Regions from separate parts of the Homo sapiens genome. Here region 1 is linked to region 2. Evidence: fine-mapped expression QTL. A gene starts in region 2. The other region holds a variant in brackets. All regions are shown on one strand. Distances are from middle to middle. Region 1 overlaps RANBP10 (RAN binding protein 10). Region 2 holds the start of CES2 (carboxylesterase 2).

Region 1 (2,906 bases), 860 kb before region 2:
AAATAAAAAAGAAAATACCTTGTATGCTGTGGCCAGGGAGCGTGGGCTGTATCTTGAGGGCAGTAGCAGTGTGGGGGGCTGTGGATCTACCCATGCTTTTGAGAGTGAAGAAAAGAAGAGACTCTGCCAGTCTGGTTCAGCCAGGCTTCTCTGGCCAAGAGCCCTTGTCCAGGGTGGGCCAGTGACTTTAGGTCTTTGGCTCTAGCATGGTTTTCTCATAGCGGTTGTCTTTTTTTCTCTTGGCTGTTCCTTTGGTATGAAGAGATGAAGGGATGGGGTGTGAAAGACTGGTAGCCAGGAGGCTTCTCAGAGGTGAGAGGACTCTGCTTGTGCTGGAGTTCTGGTATTTTGGTTTTGCCAGCTCCCATCTGAAAGACAGTAATGCCCCATGTTTTATACCCAAGCATCTCCTCTGGTGAGCCAGAATCAGCCAAAGTGATTTTCCATGGAGACCTAGAGAGCCACTGTTAATTAAGATATCTTGATTAAGATCTCACCTGCCACATTCCTGGTGTGGAGGACCATCTAAGCTTAGGCCCTTCCAGCTGAGAGACAGCTGTGGCTGGCTTCTCACCCTGGATCCCCTCACCAAGTTCCAGTCTACATGCATTGTACAGTGCTGTTGAGAACTTTGGTGCTCATATGTCATCTGGGGAAGGCGTTGTCCTGCCCGCCCTGATAAGAAGGTGCTGTCCTTGCCCAAGGTAGGTACAGGCCGTGGTTGTGCCCCATTTTCCCTTACTGCCCCCCGGAGTTGATGGTCTTACAGGCAGATGCTGAGCTTTGGGCTGCACTTCTACTCAGGTAACACATTGTGCTATTTGTGGAGACATGGAATGTTTGGGTTCTGGAACACAGGGTAGGATGTTTGGGTTCTGGAACACGGGGTAAGAGAACTGGAGTCTAGATGGTGGCCACTGTTCTTTGCTTTTTTTTTTTTTTTTTTTTTTGAGAGAGGGTCTCTCTCTGTCACTCAGGCTGGAGTGCAGTGGCACAATCATGGCTCACTGCAGCCTCGACCTCCTGAGTTCAAGCAATCTTCCTACCTGAGACTCTTGAGTAGCTGGGACTACAGGTGCATGCCATCATGCCTGGCTAATTTTTATTTTATTTATTTAATTTATTTTTTGAGACAGAGTGTTGCTCTGTCACCCAGGTTGGAGTCCAGTGGAGTGATCTCGGCTCACTGCAACCTC[C/T]GCCTCCCAGGGTTCAAGTGATTCTCATGCCTCAGCCTCCTGAGTAGCTGGGATTACAGGCGTGTGCCATGACACCTGGCTAATTTTGGTATTTTTAGTAGAGACGAGGTTTTGCCATGTTGGCCAGGCTGGTTTTGAACTCCTGACCTCAAATGATCTGCCCACCTCAGCCTCCCAAAGTGCTGGGACTACGGGTGTGAGCCACCATCCCCAGCCCTGGCTAATTTTTAAATTTTTTGTAGAGACAGGGTCTTGCTATATTTCCTAGGCTGGTCTGGAACTCCTACGCTCAATCAATCCTCCTGCCTCAGCCTCCCAAAGTGCTGGGATTACAGGCATGAGCCACCACACCTGGCCTGTGGCCACTTTTCTGGTAGGGCCTCCCTCCTCACTGTATGTTGCTACCCAGGCTCCAACTGTGAGCTGAGAGTGGGGAGCGTCGTTGCCTTCTTTATAGCTGGGGCCTTCTTGGTCAAGGATTAGCTTTTAGAGAAATTCCTAGAATTCACTTCACCTCCTGCCTTTCTGCCTTGATGGTGTTTTTGTTCTCTGGAACTTTTGGTCTTTTCCCTGTATGGGTCATGGTGTAAGGGAGATTCCTTGTTAGAAGAGAAGCAGAAGCTCATCAGGCCAGAGCACAGGAGGATGAACCTAGCAGCCCCATGTGGCAGGCACTGTGTGCCATTCCTATTATGGGACCATTGGGAAGGAATAAAGGGCTCCAGAGTGGGTCTTGTGTGGTCGGGTCAAGTTGGAAAGAAGGGACTCATCAGTGGAAGAGGGATGGATAATTATGTCTAAATGCAAAGATGTTCCTCTGCCTCTCCATTCTGTTCAAAATCCATATAAAATGTCTTTGTAATTCTAGGATCGTTGGTGTTGTGACTTGGTGGTGGAACAGAGCCTAGCCCTTCTGTCATGAAGGGGCCAGAACAAGATGCTCTGTACTATATAGGGAAGTTGGGAGGGGACTGGGGAAGCCCTTGGCACCCCTCTTATGCCATTTCTTGTTACTTAACTCTTGGAATTAGAGATGCTTGGGGTTTCAGGGGAGTTTAGTTTAGGTCAGGGGTGGCAAGTGTGAAGGCCCCAATACCCCACAATACCCTCAGCTTCTATGACCAACATTACTGATTGACAGTAGCACTTGTTCTTGTCCAGACAGAGCCCAGAATTTTTCTCAATGCACAGCACATCAGGCAGCTATAATTTACTGGTCAGAGTTTCATCATGAGATGAAATCTACTAGCCCTCAGGGTGGAGGTGGTTGGAAGATAAGTGGATAGAGGCCCAGATGGTTGAGGGCTCAGCTTATTTCTTCTAAAGGAGAGTCCCAAGGCAGAGCTGAACCAAGAGGAAAGAAACAGAGGGGTTGGATTGCTGAGTAGAACTGATTCTAACCCAGTTTATAAAGCCATGTATCTGAAATTGGCATGGACTTTTTAAAAAAATGGAATGCCCTGTTTTTATAACAACTTGCACCAGTAGTTTGTCAGTAGTTATATTTACTTTTATAAAAATCAAAATAGGCTGTGTGCTGTGGCTCACACCTGTAATCCCAGCGCTTTGGGAGGCCGAGGCAGGCGGATCACAAGGTCAGGAGTTTGAAACCAGCCTGGCCGACATGGCGAAACCCTGTCTCTACTAAAAGTAAAAAATATTAGCTGGGCATGGTGGCAGGCGCCTGTAATCCCAGCTACTCAGGAGGCT
Region 2 (2,828 bases):
CCCAAAATATTTTAAAAGGTAGCCATCTGTGAGGCCAGGCAGATCTTCCTGCTGGGCTCCTGGTGAACTCTAGAATGTGGTCAAGGGCAGGCACGGGAGGAAGCCCTGCAGCAGTGCACCATGGGGCGGGGGGAGTATGGACTCCACCTGCGCAAATTAAATTGGGGAAGGGTTGGAAGAGACAGATCATACACTTAGGAGAGTTTCGGGTGAGAGGACCAAAGGCCGAAACACTCCCCCAGCTTCTGATAAGGGCCTGGAGAAGCCTGGCAGGCACACAGAGCCTTCACCTTTGCCCTGGAAGCCAAGTTGTGCCCTTGCCCAGGATGAGGTAAATGGCATGAGGGACACCACGAGCTCTTTGGTTCTTGTTTCTGGAGACAGATTTTTGCTTTTTCACCCAGGCTGGAGTGCAGTAGTGGGATGAAGGCTCACTGCAGCCTCAACCTCCCCTACTAAAGTGATCTCCCACCTCAGCCTCCCAAGTAGCTGGGACTACAGGTCACAGACCACCACAGCCCACTAATTTCTTTCAATTTTTTGTACACTCCGAGTCTCACTATGTTGTCCAGGCTGGCCTCCAACTCCTGGGCACAAGCGATACTCTCCCTTGGCCTTCTAAAGTGGTGGGATTAAAGGAGTGAGCCAATCGCACCCAGCCACTGTGGCCTCTTAGATCTGCTTTAGGATTTGGCGCCTGGGGGCTTCTGTTCCCCAAGGACCACTATCCTTGTCTGAGGCCCCTTTGGAGGGCTCAGGGCATCCCCCCTGGCCAAGGACGCCACACACTGAGAGCCAGATGCTGCCAGAAGCTATTACTGTTATTACCGGCCGGCAGCACCCGCTACAGCCACAATCATAAGAGGGAAATGGACTGAATCCCCACACCCCAATCCCTCACCCACTCCGACCCCAGGCTGCCTACCCGGCCTGGCATGTCCCGGCGCTCCTGGGGCCCCTGTACTCCGCTGGTTCCTTGCCGTGGTGTCCCCCAGCCCGACCCTTTCTGTGCTTCTAGGAGCCCACCTTGGGCGGCGGGGAGGCGTTGCGTGGGGCTCACGAGTTCCACGCTGTCATCTCCACCAGCTCCTACCTCCCAGGCGCCTGCCCTCCCGCACTGTCAGGTTCTGCCTCCGCAGCATTTGGCAGATCTGAGCCCGGTCCCTGTCGCCCCTCCGAGGGAGCCTCACCCTGGCCCCGGACAAGAAGCAGCAGAAGCCCACAGGCCACCGCGCTCAGCCGCGCACGAAGTCTGTGCAGCCGCATGGTCGGCTCGCTGGTCTCGGTTCGCTGCCGGCGGACACGCTGCTGTTCACCCAGAGGCTGCCCCGGGTCTGTCCAGCAGTGGATCAGTGCCTTGCCCAGCCTTGGAGTTTGGACTGGGCAGGGAGTCAGCGGGGTGCGCTGGCTTGGGCCGGGAAAGGTGGGTGTGGTAGGAGAGCGGGACTGAGCAGTCATAGGTGGGTGGGGATCTAGTGGTAGGCAGGCCCGGGCACGGCCACTTTCCTTTGCCCGGGCTCCTTTGGCATCCTCGGAAGGGGCTGTGCCATTCCTGCAGCCCTTCCGCGATCCAGGGAATCCTCTCTTCAAACCTGTCCTTGTCCACAGGCCCGATGAGCGCGCTGGGGGATCGATAGGAGGGGGCAATAAACTAGAATTGGAGACCCCAGGAGGGCTTCTCTGAGGATGTGCACGTTCAGGATCCCCCAGATGGAGAAATGGGAAGGAACTTGATCGGGGTGAAGGAACCGCTTGAGCAAAGGCAGGAAGGAGTGTCGGCGCCCTTCATTCTGGAAGTTCCTCCTTGCTTTCAGGACTCAGTTTCCTGGGTTCCCCTTCACGGCCCCTCATCTCCTTACAGTCCAGGGTCTGAGGGTCTCCGCGGTCCCCTCCCTACTCAGTCACGCCATTCTTTTGAAACGTACACGTGACCGCGGCACTTCTTAAGGAGCGCCCCCCTTTTCCTCGGTGGCTTTCAGTTTCCTCACCTCCCGCGGAGACCACGGCCATGGTCATTTATCCACTTGACAAACATTTCACGAGCCCCTGCCGGTCCAAGCTGTGGGGACGCCGTACTCCCGGGCCTATGGTGCAGCAGGGGAGGCAGGCGCGTCACCGGGAGGTCCCGAGACACTAGGATCCCTGCCAGGCCAGAGGCGACCAACCGTCCTGGATACGGGAGCTCCCGGCCAGCCTGACTTCCAGGAGGAAGCGGTGTGGGGATTACCTCCGACCGCCTTTAGTGCCCCCTGAGACCTGGTTCTGGCCTCTACGTTTCAGCCCGCTACTGGCTCGCACGACCCAGCGCCGCCGTGGTCCCTTCTCAGCGCCTTCTGCTCCAGCGACCATCATGTTCCCGGGTCCGAGCAGCCAGGGCCGCGGTCACCGCTTCTCTCGCACCTCAGGCCGAGAACCCACAACGCGGCGTGTCCCTCGCGCGACTCCGTCGCCACGCCACGCCCCCTTCCCGTTCTCCGGAAGTGCGCGGGTTGGAGCGGAAGCGCACGCCTGCTAGGATCAGCGGTGGTGGTTCCGCGATGGTAGGCGGCGGCGGGGTCGGCGGCGGCCTCCTGGAGAATGCCAACCCCCTCATCTACCAGCGCTCTGGGGAGCGGCCTGTGACGGCAGGCGAGGAGGACGAGCAGGTTCCCGACAGCATCGACGCACGCGAGATCTTCGATATCCGCCGCTGCTGGGCGCGGGCGGGTTCCGGGGGCTTGCGGTGGGGGGAGCAGTGATATCGAGCAGCTGGTGGAGCCGCATCCCAGCAGGGCGTTCCTGGCAGAGGGTTCTAAGTGGGCAAGGGCGCAGAGTCCCTTTTCCTTCAC

What was found. PIP is the estimated chance that this variant, and not a neighbour inherited with it, causes the effect.
Region 1: its variant is the best candidate, but not a certain one, in a credible set for the expression of CES2 in visceral fat (GTEx, PIP 0.59).

Annotation. Positions count from the first base shown.
Region 1 is chr16:67,796,034-67,798,939 of GRCh38, reverse strand. The region is part of intron 2 of RANBP10 (RAN binding protein 10); the gene reads left to right. Among named protein-coding and RNA genes, the nearest start is that of RANBP10, 9.1 kb to the left of the region's middle. The variant C/T (reference allele first, on the strand shown) is at 1,197.
Region 2 is chr16:66,934,074-66,936,901 of GRCh38, reverse strand. It overlaps CES2 (carboxylesterase 2), which reads right to left and starts at 1,386. Exons shown (of 12, transcript NM_001365405.1): 1 at 1,191-1,386. The coding sequence starts at 1,266. CIAO2B (cytosolic iron-sulfur assembly component 2B) reads left to right here and starts at 2,500. Exons shown (of 5, transcript NM_016062.4): 1 at 2,500-2,679. The coding sequence starts at 2,538. RefSeq lists enhancers at 1,164-1,776, 2,615-2,814.